4 separate regions of the Homo sapiens genome follow, and all the other regions are linked to region 1. Evidence: fine-mapped expression QTL. A gene starts in region 1. Each other region holds a variant in brackets. All regions are shown on one strand. Distances are between the middles of the regions.

Region 1 (5,000 bases):
GTGCTGGGATTACAGGTATGAGGCACTGCACCCGACCCGGCCAATTAAGCTCCTTTAAATTTAATTCAGCTGAAGTTTTTCTTTTAGTACACTGAACAGGGGAAACTGTTTAAAACAACATCATATTTCTCAGAGGCTAATACTTAAATATAAGATGGAAGGATCAAAGTGTAACTATTGTCATTTTTATCACTTGCTGTGCTAAGTGCTTTCATGTGGATTTACTTAAACCTTTTAAAAGTCCTGTGAGATAAAGGGTATCATACTCATATTTACAGATGAGGAAACTGAATTTAGAAACTAGTATAGTAGTGAAACAGCAAAACTCTTCTGCTATACTCTATTGGAGCAATTAGAAACTATGCCTTAACATTTTTCTAATTTTTGTTTTGTAAAATTCTGTGCCACTGGATTTCTCATTTGGTTGATTTAGGGAGACCTGTGTACACTAAACATTTGACACATTAACAGAGTACTTGACTGATTTGACTACATTTGTTTGGCAAAAAAGTACAGCAGCTCAAAATTGAAACAGTTTTTGCAACATATGTATATTTTTCTTTGTTTTACCTATGGGGATAATTTACAAAGGCAGTTGTTTCCAAATACCTTCTTGTGAAGCTGAATGCTAAGCAAGTAAATATCAACCACTGATGAAGAAACCAGGTGAGAGACCTTAGACAAGGTAAAATAATCTGAAAAGATGCCTGCAAATATTTTGCAGTTTAGACTCTACGCCTTGCAGAGTTTTGAGCTCTTTTTTCTTGATGTTGTGTTAGCAATGTAATCTTTTTTGGTGCTGAGCTTAGCTTGCTGAGATGAAAGGGATTTCTTTTTCTTCTCAAGGAGTTGACACAATGGAAGCTGGAGGCATTTCCCAACACTGTGGTCAATGCTACAGTCGGGGAACAAGCAAGTCTCCCCCAAAACAGGGATCGGAGTTTTTAAGGATAATTTGGCGAGTAGGAGCTCGGGAAGTGGGGAGTGCTGACTGGTTGGGTTGGAGATGGAATGATAGGGGGTTGAAGTGAGTTTTTCTTGCTGTCTTCTGTTCCTAGGTGGGATTGCAAAACTTGTTGAGCCAGATTACCGGTCTGGGTGAAAAAGCAGAGTGGCATTCTTCCTGGAGGAGCTGGCTGAAGATCTGTAGAGGGCCCATGTGCCACGTTCAGAGCACTGTTGGGCTGTGAGGTGCCAGGCATGCCCTGCCTCCTACGTGGGCCCCTATGGCCTGGCCTTGAAACCGCCACTGCAAAATTATAACCGAGACAATGAAAGAGATCTGACCTAACCAACTCCATCTTGCTTCTAACCTCCAAGCTGTCCTTGTTCATTCCTGAGCGTAGGCTGAACTAACCTTGGGAAGGAATGAGTTTATAGTTTAACTTCAAAACAAAAATAGCCCTTTCCCGGGAAAACAACAACAACAACAACAAAAAACAACCTCTTCTTGCCTGGGACCAGTTGGCCTTTGGAGGACTAACAAATTAGCTATAAGATTAGAAATTACAGTTTAGAGGCCATACAGCCTTTGGTTGCAAGAGTCTGAACGTCCCCCAAATTGTTCCTGGGAATAACATCACTGTTGTAAAACCTACCAACACCCAGACTGGTAATCTGGCTCAACTAGTTCTGCAATCCCATTCAGGAACAGAAGACAGCAAGAAAAACTCACTTCGGCCCCCTATCAGTCCATCTCCAACCCGACCAATCATGCACCTCCCACTTCCCGAGCTTCTACTCGCCAAATTATCCTTAAAAATTCCGATCCGTTTTTGGGGAGACCGATTTGGCTAATAAAACTCCCTTTCCAACACACCCGGCTCTGCGTGAATTACTCTCTCTCTATTGCAATTTCCGTCTTGATAAATCAGCTGTCTAGTCAGCGGGCTGTAACCTTGGGCGGTTACAGCCTGGCCTGTCCCATCCCATCCAATAGTTCCCATCTCTTCTCAGCTCTCTCTGTAGTTTCTCTTCCTCCGCCTGCCTTTTAAGTTAGTGTTTCCCAGGACAGAGGTGACTCAGTTGTATCCAGACCGCTCTGTGACTGAACACCCACTTTCTTTTCCTTTTCCAAAAAATATATGTAACATACATGTCAACTAGGAACAAAACAGTATCTCAGGAATCCACCATCCAGTTAAAAATGGACCCTTACCCTTACCGTGCCCCTGCAGAGACCCCAATACAGCGCATTTCCCTCATTCTTTTGCTTTTCTCAAGTTTTACCACGGCCTCGTGGCCACAAGTGACAAAAGAGACAAGTGGAGGCAGCTGAGCCGGCCTTTAGGTTTCTGTACACAGGGAGATTTCCCATGGCTGGCATTTATGGAAACAACCGCTGGTATGTGAAAAACAGGTCCGTCACCGCCGTCACGACGGCCAGAGATTATACCCGCCGAGATGCCCGCGGCCCAGGGCCTACAATTTCCTCCGGCCAGCTCCTTTGGCCGCGCAAGCGCAGTGGGGCCGGCGGGAAGCGTAGGCGTGTGACGTCATCAGGCGGCGCGGGCCAGCCAGGTGCACGTGACTAAGGCCTTGGGCGCGGCAGGTGGTAGCCTTCCCGCCCTTCTGGCCTCTCCATCCCCTGCTGCGGGGGACCGCGCAAGCGCAGTGAGTACTGCACGTTGTCGCGGGCCAGTAACGTCATCAGACGTGTGTGTGTCCCTGCGGCGCTAAGAAGGGGAGACTGAGGCTGAGGCTGGGGAACATCGGGCAGCATGAGCGGCTGCGGGCTCTTCCTGCGCACCACGGCTGCGGCTCGTGCCTGCCGGGGTCTGGTGGTCTCTACCGCGAACCGGCGGCTACTGCGCACCAGCCCGCCTGTACGAGCTTTCGCCAAAGAGCTTTTCCTAGGCAAAATCAAGAAGGTAACGCGAGCCCTGGGCGAACCCTTGCTGTCTGGCTCCCGCTTTTCACCCTCAGCTGCAAGACTGGTGTTGAACTTTGTGAGATTCCCCAAACCTGCCAGAGAGATACACCCTGCGGCCGAGGCGTGTTAACACTCCGGATTCCTGAGTTCCAGGAAAACCTTCCCAGAGAAAGGGTGAGACATTTCCAAGACGGGGGACCCTTGGAAATGTGGTGGTGACGTGTTCCAGCTAAATTTTGTCAGGGGAATTCGGAAAACTCTAGGCTAGGTAATTAACAAAGCAGCCTTCATCTCAGCTGGTCTGGTCTGGAAATGTGCGGGGCTTCCTCTCTGATTCCTAAACAGCTTACACCATGTCCCTCCTCAGTCACCTTCCAGCGCCCTGGGGCTTCCTTCCCCAGGTGAGCCCAGCGCCTCTCCCTGCCATTGAGGTTCCTCAGAAATCTGGCTCCAAGATGCTTCCCAAGGGTGGCACAACCCAGCCAATAGTAACAGTTTGGTTATAAAACACTCATTGTCTTCTTAGAGTTGGAAGACTTGGGTTTGGTCTTGGCTCGTTGACTTTGAAACTCAGTTGTTTTTTTTGAGACAGAGTCGCGCTCTTGTCGCCCAGGCTGGAGTGCTCACTGCAACCTCCCTCCTGGGTTCAAGCGATTCTCCTGCCTCAGCCTCCGGAGTAGCTGGGATTACAGGCGCCTGCCCGGCTTTTTTTTTTTTTGTATTTTTAGCAGAGACGGGGTTTCACCATGTTGGCCAAGCTGGTCTAGAACTGACCTCGGGTGATCCGCCCACCTCGGCCTCCCACAGTGCTGGGATTACAGGGGTGAGCCACCGCGCCCGGCCAAGACTCAGTTCTTTCAGCCTTAAAATGGAGATAGTGTTGTGTCTCCTTCACAGATGTGTTGTAGAGCCCCAGTGAGATAAACGGTGCATGGAGAGTCTTCTTAAACTGTAGAGTACTGTGCAGCAGAAGAGAGAGCTGGCTTCAACACTTAGTCTTGTGACCTTGGAGCTGACGGCTGCACCTCCCTGTGCCTCAGTGCATTCATCTACAAAATAGGAATAAACACATTTCTTGCTCTTTCCTTTGTATTTCATTTTATCTTCTAAGGAAACCAACAGTATACTTGCTATTTCGTCGAGGTGCCCTACTTTGAACTTGGCTGAATGTTGGCTGATCCTGTATCACAGAAGTTATTCCCTGGCTTCTCTTTGGAACGTTCCTCTGAGGTTGTCAGGCTGATACCTTTATAGCAAGCAACTTTACAGATGAAGAAGCTAAGACTCAGACTAAAAGCAGTTTGCCCAGCTAGAAAGTGCGGAGCTATGTCTTGAACATATTGGAAAACCTTTTACCCAGGACCTGGGGCAGTGTGGTGCTCTATCCTGGGACTTCCTGCTATCCAGCAGCATGGTGAAGAAAGAACACAGATCTTTCAGATCTGTTTCCATCTTTAAACCTCTGGCACTACCTGCCCTGCCCTGCCTTTACTCTCAGCTGTCAGCTTTGCTTCCCATTCCACTGGGAAAATCCATGCAGTCGGATGAGAAGTTCACAGGCACAGTTACCCCCTCCCGCTGCATATGTGCCGGTATTATCTACATTCTGTTACTGTGAACTGTCTGCTCCTGGCAAAACCAACCTCTCATTAGACTCCAGGTCTTCTCACCTACTCAAGGGTAATTCTTTCCTTTCTCTGCATCATTAACTGTTCTCTCTACTGGATCTTGAGCCCTTACCATTCAGGCATTTGTCCCTAATGGCCATAGAAGTCAGTAATGACCTCTCTGTTATCAAATTGTGTGATCTGTTCTCAGACCTCATCCTACTTGACCCATCATTGGCATCTGACACCGTTCATCCTTCCACCCTGTTGACGCACTTTCGTCTCTGGTTTCTGAATCACTGTTCTCGCCATTCTCTGAATGTTCTAAATACTTCACTGGCTGATACTTCTCTGTGTCCATTGCTGGTTCTTATTCAGCTCCTTGACCGCTAAACAGTGACCAGTGTTTCCAACTAGCCAAGTTGGAATTTACTAAGGCTGGGTCTCGTTTCATCTACAGCCATCTGCTGGGTGACCTTATTTAGTGTCCTGGCTTTAAATATCATCAATATCCTGATGCC
Region 2 (5,196 bases), 670 kb after region 1:
GCCTATAGGCACACACCACCACACTCTGCTCATTTTTAAAGATTTTCGTAGAGTCGAGGTCTCACGATATTGCCCAGAATTTAAGTCTTTAAATTCTGCAGATTGATCAGAAATCAACATTTCCATTCACCACATTTAAATCCGGTTTCATATTTAAATCCCTTTTATGCATTTCATGGTGACTGACAACTTCTCATGCTTCCCCCACCCTTGATCCCACTTCATTTGCAACTATTTTATAACACCTTATTGAGAAATAATTCCCATACAATACAATTCACCCTTTAAAGTGTACAATGGCTTTTGGTATACTCAGAGTTGTGTATCCATCTCTATAATCAATTTTAGAATATTTTCATCACTTCAAGAAAACCAGTACCCATTAGCAGTCACTCTCCACCCCCACTCCCCAGCCCTGGCAACCACCAATCTGCTTTCTGCATCTATGGACTTCTTATTCTGGACATTTCATATAAATGGAATCAGACAGTATGTGGCTTTTTCTGACTGCCTTTTTTCACTTTGCATGTTTCAGGGCTCCTCCATGTCGTAGCCAGGGCTTCACTCCTTTGTATGGCTGGATAATATTCCACGGGATGGGTAGCGACCACATTTTGTTCATCCATCTGTCAATCATTCATCATGGATGTTTGGGCTGGTTCCATCTTTGGGCCGACATGAATAGTGCTGCTATGAACATTCATGTGTACATTTTTGTGTGGACATGCGTTTTCATTTCCCTCAGGTATATACCGAAGAGTGGAATTTTTTGGTAACTTTTTATTATGAAAACTTTCAGGGCCGAGCATGGTGGCTCATGCTTGTAATCCTAGCACTTTGGGAGACTGAGGTGGGAAGATAGCTTGAACTCAGGAGTTTGAGACTAAACTGAGCAATGTAGTGAGACCTGTGTCAAATAACAATAACAATAATAATAATAATAATAATAATAATAATAATAATGATAATAATACAAACATTAGCCAGGCGTGGTGGTGTGTGCCTGTGGTCCCAGCTACTTCGGAGACTGAGGCAAGAGGATCACTTGAGCTGGAGAGGTCAAGGCTGCAGTGAGCCATGATTGTGGCACTGCACTCCAGCTTGGGTGACAGATTGAGACCCTGTCTCCATAAAACAAAACAAAAAACTTTCAAATGGATACAAAAGTAGACTACCAAATGGTCTGTAACTCCCTTCCACTGTACCCGTCACCCAGCTCCAACAGTCACCATCTTGTGGACACTCTTGTTTCATCTGCTGGGTTATTTCAAAGCAAATGCTGGATTTATGTATCATTTCATCTGTAAATATCTTTTATAATATTTACCTTTAACAGATAAGAGCCTTTTAAAAAGCAATTGTAATACCATTAGCACACTTGAAACAATATTATCCCTAATATCCGATATTTCCTTCCAGTGCTCACATTTATCTGTTGCCTTTCTTTTTCCAGTTGGATTGTTCAAATCCTGCTCTGGGAATGAGCATTTGGTTGAGAGGTTTCCTAAGGACCTTTAGTCCATAGGGTGCCCCTCCCACTTTTTCTTTCCCCCCTTATTTGTGGAAGAAACCCGGCTGTGTGCCCTGGAGAGTCTCTCAGTCTGGGTGCCTCTGAGAATGTGCACATAGCCCCCGGAGGTCCTGTAAACCCACAGTTACGAAATTCACCCAATTTAGATTGTTTTTCTAAAGGAATACTCCATTCTTTAAAAAGAGAGATTTGGCTGGGCACGGTGGCTCAAGCCTGTAATCCCAGCACTTTGGGAGGCCGAGGCGGGTGGGTCATGAGGTCAGGAGTTCAAGACCAGCCTGGCCAACATGGTGAAACCTTGTCTCTACTAAAAATACAAAAATCAGCCAGGTATGGTGGCAGCGCCTGTAATCCCAGCTACTTGGGAGGCTGAGGCAGGAGAACTGCTTGAACCCAGGAGGTGGAGGTTGCAGTGAGCTGAGATCACGCCATTGCACTCCAGCCTGGGGACATAGAGAGACAGTGTCTCAAAGAAAAAAAGAGAGAGAGACTCAGTGAGCCTTGAGGGGAGACCATCCGGGAGCTCCCATGCCAGCGGTCAGTGTCTTGGGGAGAGGGGGGCATCTGATCCTTGCTGGACCCTCACCCACCCCCCACGGGCCAGCTGATGCCTGCCACTGAGTTGTGACTGGGCCCCGGGTGATGGCCTGCCATCTCTCCTCAGGCCCGAGCCACGGCGGTGTCCCACCAGGAGGCCCGAGCCACAGCAGCCTCCCGGTGGGACGCCGCCACCCCCCGGTGCTACGCATGGTGCTGGAGGCGCTGCAGGCTGGGGAGCAGCGCCGGGGCACGTCGGTGGCAGCTATCAAGCTCTACATCCTGCACAAGTACCCAACAGTGGACGTCCTCCGCTTCAAGTACCTGCTGAAGCAGGCGCTGGCCACTGGCATGCGCCGTGGCCTCCTCGCCAGGCCCCTCAACTCCAAAGCCAGGGGGGCCACTGGCAGCTTCAAAGTAAGCGCCCCTGAGGGAGGACATAGCCCAGGGTTGGAGCAATGGTCCTGGCCTCTGTGAGTGCTGCGGCCTCTACTGGAAGGCCTTTCCCCTCCGGTCCCCTGTCCTTGTTCCTCCTGTGGTCTCAGCCGAGATGCCCTCTCCTCTAGGAAGGCAGGTAGTGTGCCCTCTCTGAGCTCCCACTGCAAGAGTCACCCTGTTGGTGTCCAGGACAGGTGAACTGTTGCATGTTTGGGATCCCAGGGCCTGTGTCAGCTGTGCTAACTTCTGGGTCCTGGGCACGTAGCCCCTTCCTGGAATTCCTCACCACAGCAAAGGGTTTTCCCTCTGCTGGCACCTCCCTGAGCAGCCATGTCCTCCGTTTCAAAGGGGAGAGTTTCATCTTTATAAGGAGGCTCCAAAAGGGGACCCATGCCAGGTCACTCAGAGCTGAGGCAGGTCTGGGACAAAACTGCACCCCAACATCAGGACTGTCATCAGCCACCAGGAATACCTCAGGGACCAGACCCACGGCCTGACTTGTCATTGCTGGGTCCCCTGCATCTTGCCTAACTTCCTGCATGTAGCAGCTGCCATGACAGTTGCC[A/G]TGGAATGCTGGGGAACATTCTCAGCCTACCCCAAGCCGGTCCCTGTGGTTACCTGGTGACAGATCACAGAAAGTCCCACCCTGGTAGAACTCCTGGGCGTGGGTCAGAGCCTGGACTTGCGTCACAGCAGGACCAGGCGGCTAAGCAGGGAGAAGAGCCAGAGGGGCGTCAGGTGTCTGATGCGGTGTGCTGGCAGTTGAGGGGTGAAGGTAGTTTCTAGTCTTGGTGATGGGGAGCCCTGAGGGTTGGGGGACAGGAAAGAAACAGCTTGCCAGGAGCCCTCCCTTCCCTGCCGCTCACAGCCTTGGTGATTGTCCTGCTGTAAAGATGAGAAGACGTGGCTGTGGTACACGGCTGGAGGAGGGCGGAGGAAGCTGTGAGCCCAGAGCCATCTGACCTCAGCCCATGTTCTGCTGAGCGTCAAGGGGCGAGGTGGTGGGGGCATGGGGCATGAGGCAGGGCAGCGCTTCAGGGTAGTGGGGGAGGAGGAGTCCAGAGGCACAATCTGTGGGAAAGTGGCAGGCCTAGGGCAGGTGGTTGAGAGATCCTGAGATCCTAGAATCATAGTAGACAGTGCCTCCAAGGACAGTGGCTTCGTGCCTTCTCCCTGCCTCTCACTGCCTGTGGAGCCCCCCTGTTTGGAACGAGGCCTCCCATTCGGAGTCTTACGGGGGGTGGGGGGCGTGAGGCACCTGAGGCTCTGCTTTCAGCCCCACCCCGTGTCCTTCTCCAGTTAGTTCCCAAGCACAAGAAGAAAATCCAGCCCAGGAAGATGGCCCCCGCGACGGCTCCCAGGAGAGCGGGTGAGGCCAAGGGGAAGGGCCCCAAGAAACCAAGTGAGGCCAAGGAGGACCCTCCCAACGTGGGCAAGGTGAAAAAGGCAGCCAAGAGGCCAGCAAAGGTGCAGAAGCCTCCTCCCAAGCCAGGCGCAGCCACAGAGAAGGCTCGCAAGCAAGGCGGCGCGGCCAAGGACACCAGGGCACAGTCGGGAGAGGCTAGGAAGGTGCCCCCCAAGCCAGACAAGGCCATGCGGGCACCTTCCAGTGCTGGTGGGCTCAGCAGGAAGGCAAAGGCCAAAGGCAGCAGGAGCAGCCAAGGTAGTTGTGTGACTTGTAGGGGGTGGTGTGGGGATGGGGGTCTTGACAGCCACTGGAGCGGGGGCGGGGAGCCAGCTCTGGAGAGGGGTTTCCTTATCTAGTGCATGTGTCCTGAGTGCTGGGCTTGACCTGGAGAGAGAGAACTCATGGTAGCTGGTTGGGGGAAGGAGGCAGACATTTCAAGGGTTATGAAGGGGGAAGCAGAGACCAGGAGACTGACTCATTCTTGAGGCAGTGGAGGAAGGTGTCTCAAGCAGGGGAAGGGCCTGTGTAAAGGCCTGGAGGCATAAAGAAGGTGGAGTTTTTAGGCCGGGCATGGTGGCTCATGCCTGTAAGCCTAACACTTTGGGAGGCCAAGGCGGGCGGATCCCTTGAGGTCAGGAGTTTGAGACCAACCTGGTCAACATGGTGAACCCCCGTCTCTGCTAAAAATACAAAAATTAGCTGGGCATGGTGGTGTACACCTATAATCCCAGGTACTTGGGTGGCTGAGGCAGGAAAATCACTTGAACCCAGGAGGCAGATGTTACAGTGAGCCGAGATCGCACCACTGTACTCCAGCGTGGGTGACAGAGTGACACTCAGTCTCAAAACAAAACACAAAAAGAAGGTGGAGTATTTGAGGAACTGCATGTAATTCAGTCTACCTACAGTTTTGGCAAGGAGAAGCTGTGAAGGGCAGCTGGAATCAGGGCTTTATCTGGAGGACAATGCAGAGCTGTGGAAGGATTCTGACAGGAAGCAGCTAGGGCTAGAGTTATTATTTTTTTTCCTCTCTCTCTTTTAGAGACAGGCTCTTGCTCTGTCACACAGGTGAGTGCTGAGCCCAGGAATTAGAGACCAATCTGGGCAAGATACTAGGATCCCATCTCTGCAAAAAATAAAAATATTAGCTGGCATGGTGTTGCATACCTGTTGCCCCAGCTACTTGGGAGGCTGAGGCAGGAGGATCGCTTGAGCCTGGGAGGTCAAGGCTGCAGTAAACTGAGATCGCCCCACCACACTCCAGCACAGTGACAGAGCGAGA
Region 3 (5,196 bases), 36 kb after region 1:
ATTCTCTAAGAAACAGCTTGAAAGCTCTGTCTGGGTCATTCATTTAAACTAGAAGCAGAGGCACTTAAAACATGTACCAGGAACCATTTAACAAAGAATATAAAATGTCACAATCTGTGTACTGTTAGCCTTTGCTGTACTTGTCACACTGTTCCTTAGAACCAGCCTTTAATGGGTGACAGCAGGACCCTGAGAACCACCCTTTGGTGATGGCCTCGGGTCCCCTTTGTCCTCACCCTGCAAGGAGGGCCCAGAATGCTAAGGAGCAGACACACAGTGCAGGCCACAATCCCTTGGGGTTATGAGCCCTTAGTTTTTATCCTTCTCAGGAGATGATGGGGAGGCTGTCTCAGCTGATGATGTTCCCACCTAGGGACTTTAGTTTCTTTACAAGAACTGGCTTCTACTCTTGAGGAGAGGATGAATGGTATCTCCAGGCCAGCAGGCCTTTGCATTTCTCCAGCCTCCCTTCTGCTGGCACTTGAAAGATTACACCAGGTCCCAGCGTGCTCACTGTGGTGAACTTTAAGCTTTGATGTGGTCCTTGGGTGGTCTGGAGCTCTAAAATGCCTATTGTGGACACTCCCTTGAGCACAGAGAAGGCAGCCGACTCTTTTTCCTCCAAGTATATTCCCAATTTACTGTGATGCTGGAAATAGGCAAGGAGGAGACTGGGAACTTGGAGAGCTGAGCTGGCTGAGTGGGGCTGGCCTGAGCATTCTGCCAGGGGTTTGGTAACTAGTTTTTAAAATGGGGAAAGTTTGTAAATATTGTGACCGTGTAAATAACCTCTCAGTGAAACCTGAAGTTCTGTTAGTGATAGCAGGGCAGCATTTTGCACAAAATGAAGCATGCATACCTCTGGACAGAAGGCTGCTTAGAGTTTCTTTGCACAGGAGAAGTTTGGGGAGGGGCTGTCAGACCCACCCCCCTTCTGTGCAGCCTTCTGGAAGGGGGCTTCACTCTAGGCTGGTGGCGTGTAAGGCCTCAGTCTTACATGCCAATGGAGAATGGCAAGTTCTCCATTCATCCATCTGGGTTGAAAAGGCCTAGCGACCAGTTCAAGCCTCTCCCTCTCATCTGTAGTTGCTAACTTTTCTTAAACATGTTGTGGGAAGAGGAGACCCCAGCAAGTGTTTCTTAAGTGATTTCACCAGTGAAACCCCCAGGAGACTTTTGCTGGGAAGGCTGGCAGTGGAGCTCACTAGGAAGCCTTCTTACCAAGGAAAAGCCTTGTGTTCTTAGGCTAGACAGCTCTCCTAGCTGGAGCCTCCTTGAGAGCCACAGCAGTAACTGTGGGCCTGGGACATGCCCACAGAGAGCAGGTCTCTTCAGGCAACCTGGGAGATCTAGGGCCTACTGGGGAGGGAGGGAGCCAAGTCTAGGCAAATGGAGAAAGTGACATTTCAGCAAACTTGTTAGCACTTCCATGGAGCTGTGATCAGTTGTCCTTAGGAGTCGAGGAGGAGAGGAAGCCATCACGTTCACCTGACCTAGTTTTCTGGGAGAAGTTTCTCTGGCAGACCTTGTTTTTAGATAGGCTCATGTCTCTTTCTCCCTGAACAAAGGTTCTGGCTCTGTTAACCAAGTTTGGGTTCTATGTTAACCTCCAGATGATCCTGAGATCAATTTTCATAAACAGGGATAAAGAGGAAGAGGACTTGGAGGGACTGGTACAGCAAGACCTACGTTTCCTGTCTCTGCCTTACCCCAAAGAAAGAACTGTCAGTATCTTTGCCGCTGGAAGGTCCCAGTGAAGCCCAGAGCCTCTGCCCCCAGCTCTTGGCTGGACACCTAGAGATCAGTCATGGGTAATAGTGTTGAAGCTCAGGAAGCCTTTAGACCTGTCTTCCAACTTCCCCACTTTATAGCCAAGAAACCAGACCCAGGGCATGAAGGGATTTGCCTCAAGTCACACAAATGTCACACTTGGGGCTAGAATCCTGGTCTGAGTTCCAGCCCAGCATTCAATCTCTTTTTTCAGACCCATTCTGCATCTTGCTTTTCTTAGCATAGAAAGTTTGGTTGATAGTGTAAACAAAATGGATACCACTGAAGATGCAGAGTGGCACAGAGCTCCTGCCTGCCCACGGCATCAGGAGGCCCAGCTTGGCAAACCCTTGCCTGTTACCTGTTACAGGCTTTGGTGCGGGCGAAGGGAGCAGCTCGAGGAAAGGTGGTGGTTTCTTGTACAGATCAAAGTCCACGTGGTGCCTGTCCCAGCTCCACCTGTCTCGATCCAACACAGGCTCCAGTACATTAGCAAACAGGGAGTTTTCCTTCCACTCCTAAATTGGGGGAGTAAGTAAATCAGGAGGAGAAAGGTCCCTATGGACACCCCACCTGAGACCCTGCTCTTCCCTGTGGACCTCATTCAGCTCTTTGATGGGTGGCAGCTTGAGATCCTGAAAGCTGCTTTCGGTGTCGCTCTGAAGACCTGTCACTTGGAATCCCCTGGCTGTGAGCCAGGCCTGGCGGGATTTCTTCTGGGCTTTCTTCTCCTCTTCCTTCAAGTCCAGGGGCTCCACCATGGCTGAGAGGTAATCCTGTGAGTACGTGAATCTCTTTCTTGGCTCCTAGAAATGGGGGCAGACAGGTTGGGGTGGAAGGGCTAATAGCAATCTTGGATTTATTTCCAAGTAGGAATCAGAAACAGCTGGGGGCATAATCATAGTTCCTGACAATGTAAATAGTGCATTGAGAGGAAATGACTGTGCAGTAGCCCTGTAAGGGACATATTAT[T/C]GTCCCCTTTGATGGGAGAAGCCGTTTCCTAAAGTTAATATGTGCTGGAAGCCTAAACCATGGCTTTCCCTTCTGTTGGTAGCTGCCTTGATAAGCAGCAATCATAAAGTGTTCCCCAGAGGTAAGGATGCTACAGTTGTTCTCCTTTATGTACATCTGAGCTTACATTGAGGATCTTGGGCTTACCCTCAGGTGTGGAGGATTCACATTTAGTGTGGAACAGAACACCTCTCAACATCTGAGCCTTGTCTACTTCCCCTAGCTGATTGGCTTTCATCTGTATAGTTGAGATCCCCCACTGACCTCCAGGCAGGCATGGTCAGAATAAAGAACTCATGGGATTTGCCAACTGCCATCATCCTGTCTGGGTCTCTCACCTTGGCTATCTCTTGATACAGCTCCTTCTTGGCAAGCTCTGTAGAATTCATGGTCTGGGTACTATAGTTGTAGACGGCCTTGTTGGCAGGGGCTGAAATTTTAATCACCTTCGCCACGGACTTCGGAGGCTTCTTGCTGACCTGGTAGGCTTCTGTGATATTTTTCTGAAGAAAGAGACACCAGTCACTACCCACACCAGGTCATCCTCACCCCCCATGCCAGCTCATATGCAGTGAGATGATCTCTGGGACTTAGCTGTGGTGCAGGTATTGATTGATTCTTCAATACTGGTGCTGTTATTTCATCATAGAACCAGGGCAAAGGGCCAACTAGTCCAACCTCTCACTATCCAAAATGGAATTTAAGAGGACCAAAAAATTGAGACCCCTAAGGTCACTGTAACTGGAACACACATCATCTGGCCACTCATCTCCCAACCACCTTGTGATAAAGACAGAATTTGTGTCTCACATGGTCAGAAGTAGGAGAGTGTGGACAGGGGATATTACAACCTAAAGCAGCAAGGACTGCCATCCTTGACCATGGTTAACTGTCAAGTGTGCATAAGGATTATGACCCTCATTCTGTCCAGCAGGCCCAGTAAGGAAATGGGAACTCTTCCCTGAACAGAGAGAAATAAGATGGTCTGTTGGCTTCCTTTGTGAATGAAAATAGAAATGTGGAAGGAGATAAAAGACAACACAGAAGGCTGGGGGGAAAGGTGGCTGGGACCCAAAACAAGGGAGAACTGGGAAAGTTACCACTCTAAATTGTTGGGCACTGTGCAGTGTTTCATATGCATATTTCACAGTAACCTTCAGCAAAATACCATCTTTTACCTTTAAAAAATTTTTTAGCACAAGATGGTGACCTTAGCTCAACTACAGTGGCTTGACTTTGGAATCTTTGAGGAATTAATGCACAAGAATTTAAAATAATCAGGGGAGGACAAAATTTGTGATTCACACACATGAAAGAACAGACTGTCCAGGCAACAAGGGATGCAAGGTAAAGGCAAGTCTAGGTCCTCAGACTTTGGAGCACCTGCGAGAAGATTATACTAGGGATGCCACATAGAGCAAGGATCCTGTCATGGCCCACATGGAACTTCAATCAATATTTCTTGATGTGTCCAGTTTTTCTAGTTGTCCTTAGTGGGGGAGTTGATCTGAGTTTCTCAGTTAGCCATTCCTAGAAGTCCCCTGCTCCTTCCAAATCCTAGAATTCGTGAATTACAACCTAGGGGGACAGATTCTTCTTTCCATGCTACTCCTTTCTTACAATTTGAAGTTGAAATTCTGACCTAATGCTTATTACAGGGAAAGCAAACTGTTCCGTAGTTCTTCTGGGTGCCTGAGATTCTCTGCTGAGGGGTGACACCTGCAGGAGAATTTGGACTCAGAGCAAAAGTAACTAGATGCTGGAGAAGTAAATACAGTATTTAAAAAAGGCCACAGACTGAACAACTGAAGCTAAATTATTGGAAAAGATGGGCTAAGAATTTAACATAAGAAATTGTTTTAAAATAAGAGTGAAGATAGCAATATGAAGCAGAAGTAAAACTAAAAGAAAAAGTATTGAGTATGAAAATAGTTGAAATAGAAGACAAGAGAATGAGATATATTGCAGAAGTGATACTGTTGTAGAACGAATGAATGAACTGGAATATCCACTTGAGATATGCTTTCAGAAAGCAGTCCTGTATAAAAAAGATAAAATTAGAAACTGAGTATAGAGGATGGAAATAACATCCAAATAACAGAAATCCCAAAAGGAGGGGAAAAGTGAGAACAAGAAAATTTGAAGCAATAATGAATGTCAGAAAAGACAAAACTTCCAAGCCTGGGTACACTATTATTAGTGGGATTTAAGCAAACAAATACAAAGATAAACTCTCAAAGCTTCTAGAGGAAAAGAGCAGGCCACCTGTAAAGAAAAACTATCACTTGTGATCAGATCCACAACAGCAACAAGGTAAGTTAACTTCAACCTACAATTTCATATCCAAGCAAACTAATTGTGAGGGCTTAGGTTTAAAGGCCTTAGGTTTTACATAAAACCCTCCTTTAAAAACTC
Region 4 (5,196 bases), 71 kb after region 1:
GATAAACTGATTCTAAAATTTGTATAGAAGAGCCAGGAAACTGGAAGAGCTAAAACAATGTTGAAAACTAAAGTTGGAGGAACCACTTCACCCATTTTTACGACTTACTACAAAGCTACTATAAGCAAGACAGTGTCGTGTTGCTGAAAGGACAGACACAGACCCACGGATCAGAAAAGAGAAACCGGAAACAGATCCACACAAGTATGGCTAATCTATGTTTATCAAAAGTGCAAAAGAAAGAAACTTCAACGTAAACCTCACACCATATACAAAAATTCATTCAAAATTGATCAAAGGCTGGGTGTGGTGGCTCACACCTTTAATCCCAGCACTTTGGGAGGCTGACGCAGGAGGACTGCTTGAGGCCAGGAGGTTTGAGGTTTCAACGAGCTACAACTGCACCACTGCACACCAACCTGGACAACAAATGAGATTCTGTCTCAAAAAAGAAAAAAATTGATCGAAGATATAAATGTTAACTATAAAACTATTAAAGCATTGAGAAGAAAACAGAAAAAAAAAATCCTTCTGACCAGGGGTTAGGCAAAGAGTTCTTAGATGTGACACAGAAACACAATGCATACATGAAAAAAAATGTATAATTTGGACTTCATCAAAATTAAAATTTTTGCTCTGCAAAAGACACTGTAAAGAGAATGAAAAGATGTGCTTGTCACAGATTGGGTTAAAAATAAAAGAGAATGACAAGACAAACTACAGACTGGGAGAAAATATTAGCAAATAATATATCCAACAACAGACTTAAATCCAGAATGTGTATGTAAACACACATTTATTATATATATATATTTATGGTGAGACAGGGTCTTGCTCTGTTGCCCCGGGCTGGAGTGCAGTAGTGCAATCATGGCTCACTGCAGCCCCAACCTCCCTGGGCTCAGCTGATCCTCCCACCTCAGCTTCCCTAGTAGCTGGGACTACAGGTGTGTGCTACCATGCCCCACTAATTTTTCTTTTCTTTCCTTTTTTTTTTTTTTTTTTTTTTTTTTTGTAGAGACAGAGTTTTACCATGTTGCCCAGGCTGGTCTTGAACTCCTGAGCTCAAGTGATCCTCCTGCCTCAGCCTCCCAAATTGCCAGGATAACAGGCGTGAGCCACCGTGCCCATCCCGGAATTTTTTTTTTTTTTTCCCTGAGACAGGCTCTCGCTCCATTGCCCAGGCTAGAGTACAGTGGCTCAATCTCAGCTCACTGCAACCACCACCTCCCCAGTTCAAGCAATTCTCCTGCCTCAGCCTCCTGAGTAGCTGGGATTACAGGCACGCGCCACCAGGCCTGGCTAATTTTTGTGTTTTTAGAAGAGATGGGGTTTCACCATGTTGGCCAGGCTGGTCTTGAACTCCTGACCTCAAGTGATCCGCCCGCCTTAGCCTCCCAAAGTGTTGGGATTACAGGCGTGAGCCACCGTGCCCAGCCTAGAATATATATTTTTTAAAACTCCCAAAACTCAGCAGTAAGACAGTAAACAACCCAACTGAAAAATGAGCAAAAATTTGAGCAGAAATTTCACCAAATGGGATGTAAAATGGCAAATAAACACATCAAAAGATGCTCAACATCATTATCCGTCAGGGAACTACAAATTAAAACCATGATATGATAACAATACAAACTTCTTAGACTGGCTAAACTTAAAATACTGACAATACCACATTCTGGAGAGGGTAGGGAGCAACTAGAACCCTTGTTCACTGCTGATGAGAATGCAGAGTGATCAGCCGCACTGGAAAATGGTGGGCAGTTTTTCATAGTCAGGCATATACTTAACATATAGCCTAGCAATTTCATTTGTTGGCATTTACCCTAAAGAACTGAAAACTTATGTTCCTATAAAAACATGTGTACACTGTTTTTAAGCAGCTCTATTCATAATTACCAAAAACTAGAAGCAACCTAAATGTCCTTTGATGAGTGCACGAACAAACTGTGGTACACCCTTGTGATGGAATACTGCTCAGCAATGAAAAGGAAAGAACTACCGATAGATGCGGCCACTTGAATGAATCTGAAAGGCATTACCTTGAGTGGAGAGGCCATGCACATTGTTATCTGCTGAATCAAAGGTTACAGCTGCATGATGCTGCAAAACACAGAGCCCCATTTACATGACATTCTTCCAGAGTTAAAACTATAGTCATAAAGAACACATCAGTGGCTGTCAGAGGTTATGTGTGTGAAGCAAAAGTGATTATGAAGGGCGAGTACAAAGGAGGGGTTTGGGGTAACAGAACTGTATCCTAACTGTAGTGGTGATAATATTGATCTATACGTGATTTTATTTTATTTTTCTGAGACAGAGTTTCTCTCTCATAGCCCAGGCTGGAGTGCAATGGCGCGATCTTGGCTCACGGCAACCTCTGCCTCCCAGGCTCAAGCAATTCTCCTGCTTCAGCCTCCTGAGGAGCTGGGATCACAGGCACGTGCCACCACGCTCAGCTGATTTTTGTGTTTTTAGTAGAGACAGGGTTTCCCCCATGTTGGCCAGGCTGGTCTGAAACTCCTGACCTGAAATGATCCACCTGCCTCAGCCTCCCAAAATGCTGGGATTACAGGTGTTAGCCACTGCACCTGGCCTGATCTATACATAATTTTAAATTTATAGACCTA[T/C]AAACCAAAAGATAAACATCAATTTTACTGTAGAAAAATTTGTTTTTTAAAAAAAATAACAGAGGGTCTCTGGAATAGGGGATAGTTGAGGGCATCTGTGCCGTTCCCAAATAGGGAGATTAGGTGACCAAATGCTCACTGCTTAGTGCAAATTCCCAGCTCCTTTCTGTCTGTGGGCATTCAGAATGCAGCAGGCTAGACCCTGACCCCCCAGGCAGGGAACTAGGAAAGCCCTGTAGAACCCAGGGGTTCCCACCAACGCCCCACTCAGATCACCCGATGGTGAAGCTCAGAGCTGAGAAGCCCACCGTGCACCCAAAGCTCGCCTTTTAGGTCTGTGCTCTCTCAGCCATGAGCAGTGGGCCAGGGGATTAACAGACAGTGGAGGAAAACGTCTGACCTGGAAGGTGGAGTGAAACAAACAGGAAGATCAACCTAAAGGAAGCGGACTACACACGTGACGACAGTGCCCATGAAGCAAGCTGGAAGTGCTGTGTCCCAGGCCCCCGACACCCTCAAGTTCAGTGATTCGCTAGGAGAACTCACAGAACTCAGCATGGGTGCAGCGCACTTGTGTCTGTGATTTATTACAGCAAAAGAGACAAAGCAAACAACAAAGGGGGCAGGCACAAGCTGCTGAAGTCCTCTCCCAGGGGATACACACAGGGGGTGCTCAACTCCTCCCTGATGCAGTGCAGCAACGTGTGAAATGCTGTCCACTGGGGAAGCCCATGAGGGACTCACTGCCTAGGGCTTTTGCTGAGGCCTGGTCACATAGCACCCCCTGCCTAGCATGTATGAAAATCTCAGCCTCCCAAAGGGAAAGCAGGCATTCAGCACAAACGATACTGTTTGCAAAAGCCATTTAGGCACAGTGAGCCATTCTTAACGGGGAGTGCGGGGAACCCTCTCAAAATGCAAGTTCCCATATACCAGCCTGGGTCAACTCTGCAAACAGGACTTTTTAAGGACGGTAGTCTCAGGCCCACTCTGTTCACTCTTTTCTGAACATTTCCTAGAAAAAGGATCAATTAGGAGAGAAAGAACAATAAAAACAAGTAGAAGATAGCTGGGTGTGGTGCCAGGCACCTGTAATTCCAGCTGTTCAGGAAGCTGAGGCAGGAGAATTGCTTGAATCTGGGAGGCAGAGGTTGCAGTGAGCTGAGATCGTGCCACTGCACTCCAGCCTGGGTGACAGAGCGAGACTCCATCTCAGAAAAAAAAAAAAGGAAAGCCCAGGAGAGTCAGCATCTAGCTAACAGAGTCCCAAAAAGAAAGGGGGAAAAAAATGAAGAAATAATCAGTGAAATAATTTAAGACAATTTCCCGGTGCTGAAGGATGTGGGCTTCTAGGTTGAAATGGCCCACTGAATCCCCAGCTTCACGGGTAAAAATACACTTACAGAGTTCCTGTTCTGGATCAAGATGGAATAGACACACTTCTAGTTCTACTAAGTACAGCTTTAAAACTCTGCAGGTTGTATATATAAAAAAAAAATACAAAGACTTTGAAAAGTACAGAAAAGGTGTTTAGGGAACATGGGATCCTGGGTCTTCTATTTGCCTCATATATTCCGGACTGAGTGCTGGAGAAGGCAGTATCCAGAAATACCAGTGAGAGTAGGCAGAAAGGACCCCAAGAAAAGTCTGCTTTCTCCATATCAAAGACGAAGAAAGGGACAACTCAGCAGAACAGCAAACTTTTAGGCAAATAACCTCCCTACCCCAGACACACACCATGGAAAAAATCATGCCCCACCCCAGAAACAAAGGCTACATGGGAAGCCTGGACTTCTACCCTCACTGACTTTAACTTGGTGCTCCTTACCTCACTGGGGTAGTGTCAGAAAAGACCTGGTGGGGAGCCAGGACTTTCCCCAACCCTCAATGGAAATGAAGCCTCCCATCATGTATCAGTGAAGTCCACAAGAGCAGTAACAAGATATCCCTACCCACAGGGTACAGTGGCCAAGTGGGGAACCTGGAGTCTCACCTGGCAGTATTGAGATGGTAACTCTCTCATCTCCCCCTCCACAGGCCTGCTACACATGCAGTTTGGTGTTGGAGAAGGCCTGCTACACATACAATTTTTTTCTTTCTTTTCTTCTTCTTCTTCTTTTTTTTTTTTTTGAGAGACAGGGTCTCTGTCATCCAGGCTGGAGTGCAGTGGTGCAATCATAGCTCACTGCAGCCTCAGCCTCCTGGGTTCAAGCCATCCTCCCACCCCGGCCTCTTGAATAGCTGGGCTACAGGTGTATGCCACCACATCTAGCTAATTAAAATAAAAATTAAGAAGGGATCACACTGTGTTGCCCAGGCTGGTCTTAAACTCCTGGGCTCAAGTGATTCTCCAGCACCCAGCTTAAACGTAAGATTCAAATAAGATACAGTCTCATAATGTAATACTCAATATATCCAAGATAGAATTTTTAAAAAATCACCTGTCATACCAGAAAAATCAACTTGAATGGGAAAAACCAATGAACAGACACCAACACTGAGATGATACAGATCTTGGAATTATCTGAAAAGGAATCTGAAGCAGTAATGAACATGCTTGAAACAA

What was found. PIP is the estimated chance that this variant, and not a neighbour inherited with it, causes the effect.
Region 2: its variant is the best candidate, but not a certain one, in a credible set for the expression of ACAD9 in esophagus muscle (GTEx, PIP 0.66).
Region 3: its variant is the best candidate, but not a certain one, in a credible set for the expression of ACAD9 in whole blood (INTERVAL, PIP 0.57).
Region 4: its variant is the best candidate, but not a certain one, in a credible set for the expression of ACAD9 in whole blood (TOPMed, PIP 0.83).

What each region holds. Positions count from the first base shown.
Region 1 is chr3:128,876,972-128,881,971 of GRCh38, forward strand. It overlaps ACAD9 (acyl-CoA dehydrogenase family member 9), which reads left to right and starts at 2,649. Exons shown (of 18, transcript NM_014049.5): 1 at 2,649-2,870. The coding sequence starts at 2,721. It overlaps ACAD9-DT (ACAD9 divergent transcript), which reads right to left and starts at 2,465. Exons shown (of 3, transcript NR_186174.1): 1 at 2,165-2,465. RefSeq lists enhancers at 1,519-2,370, 2,226-2,775, 2,371-3,223, 2,836-2,915, 3,224-4,075.
Region 2 is chr3:129,545,196-129,550,391 of GRCh38, forward strand. H1-8 (H1.8 linker histone) reads left to right here. Exons shown (of 5, transcript NM_153833.3): 2 at 2,196-2,485; 3 at 3,806-4,169. Among named protein-coding and RNA genes, the nearest start is that of H1-8, 4.6 kb to the left of the region's middle. RefSeq lists a silencer at 1,411-1,705. The variant A/G (reference allele first, on the strand shown) is at 3,072.
Region 3 is chr3:128,912,988-128,918,183 of GRCh38, forward strand. It overlaps ACAD9 (acyl-CoA dehydrogenase family member 9), which reads left to right. Exons shown (of 18, transcript NM_014049.5): 18 at 1-127. CFAP92 (cilia and flagella associated protein 92 (putative)) reads right to left here. Exons shown (of 16, transcript NM_001394090.1): 13 at 3,120-3,284; 14 at 2,370-2,576; 15 at 2,132-2,288. Among named protein-coding and RNA genes, the nearest start is that of ACAD9, 36 kb to the left of the region's middle. The variant T/C (reference allele first, on the strand shown) is at 2,743.
Region 4 is chr3:128,947,391-128,952,586 of GRCh38, forward strand. All of the region lies in intron 9 of CFAP92 (cilia and flagella associated protein 92 (putative)), which reads right to left. Among named protein-coding and RNA genes, the nearest start is that of CFAP92, 44 kb to the right of the region's middle. The variant T/C (reference allele first, on the strand shown) is at 2,631.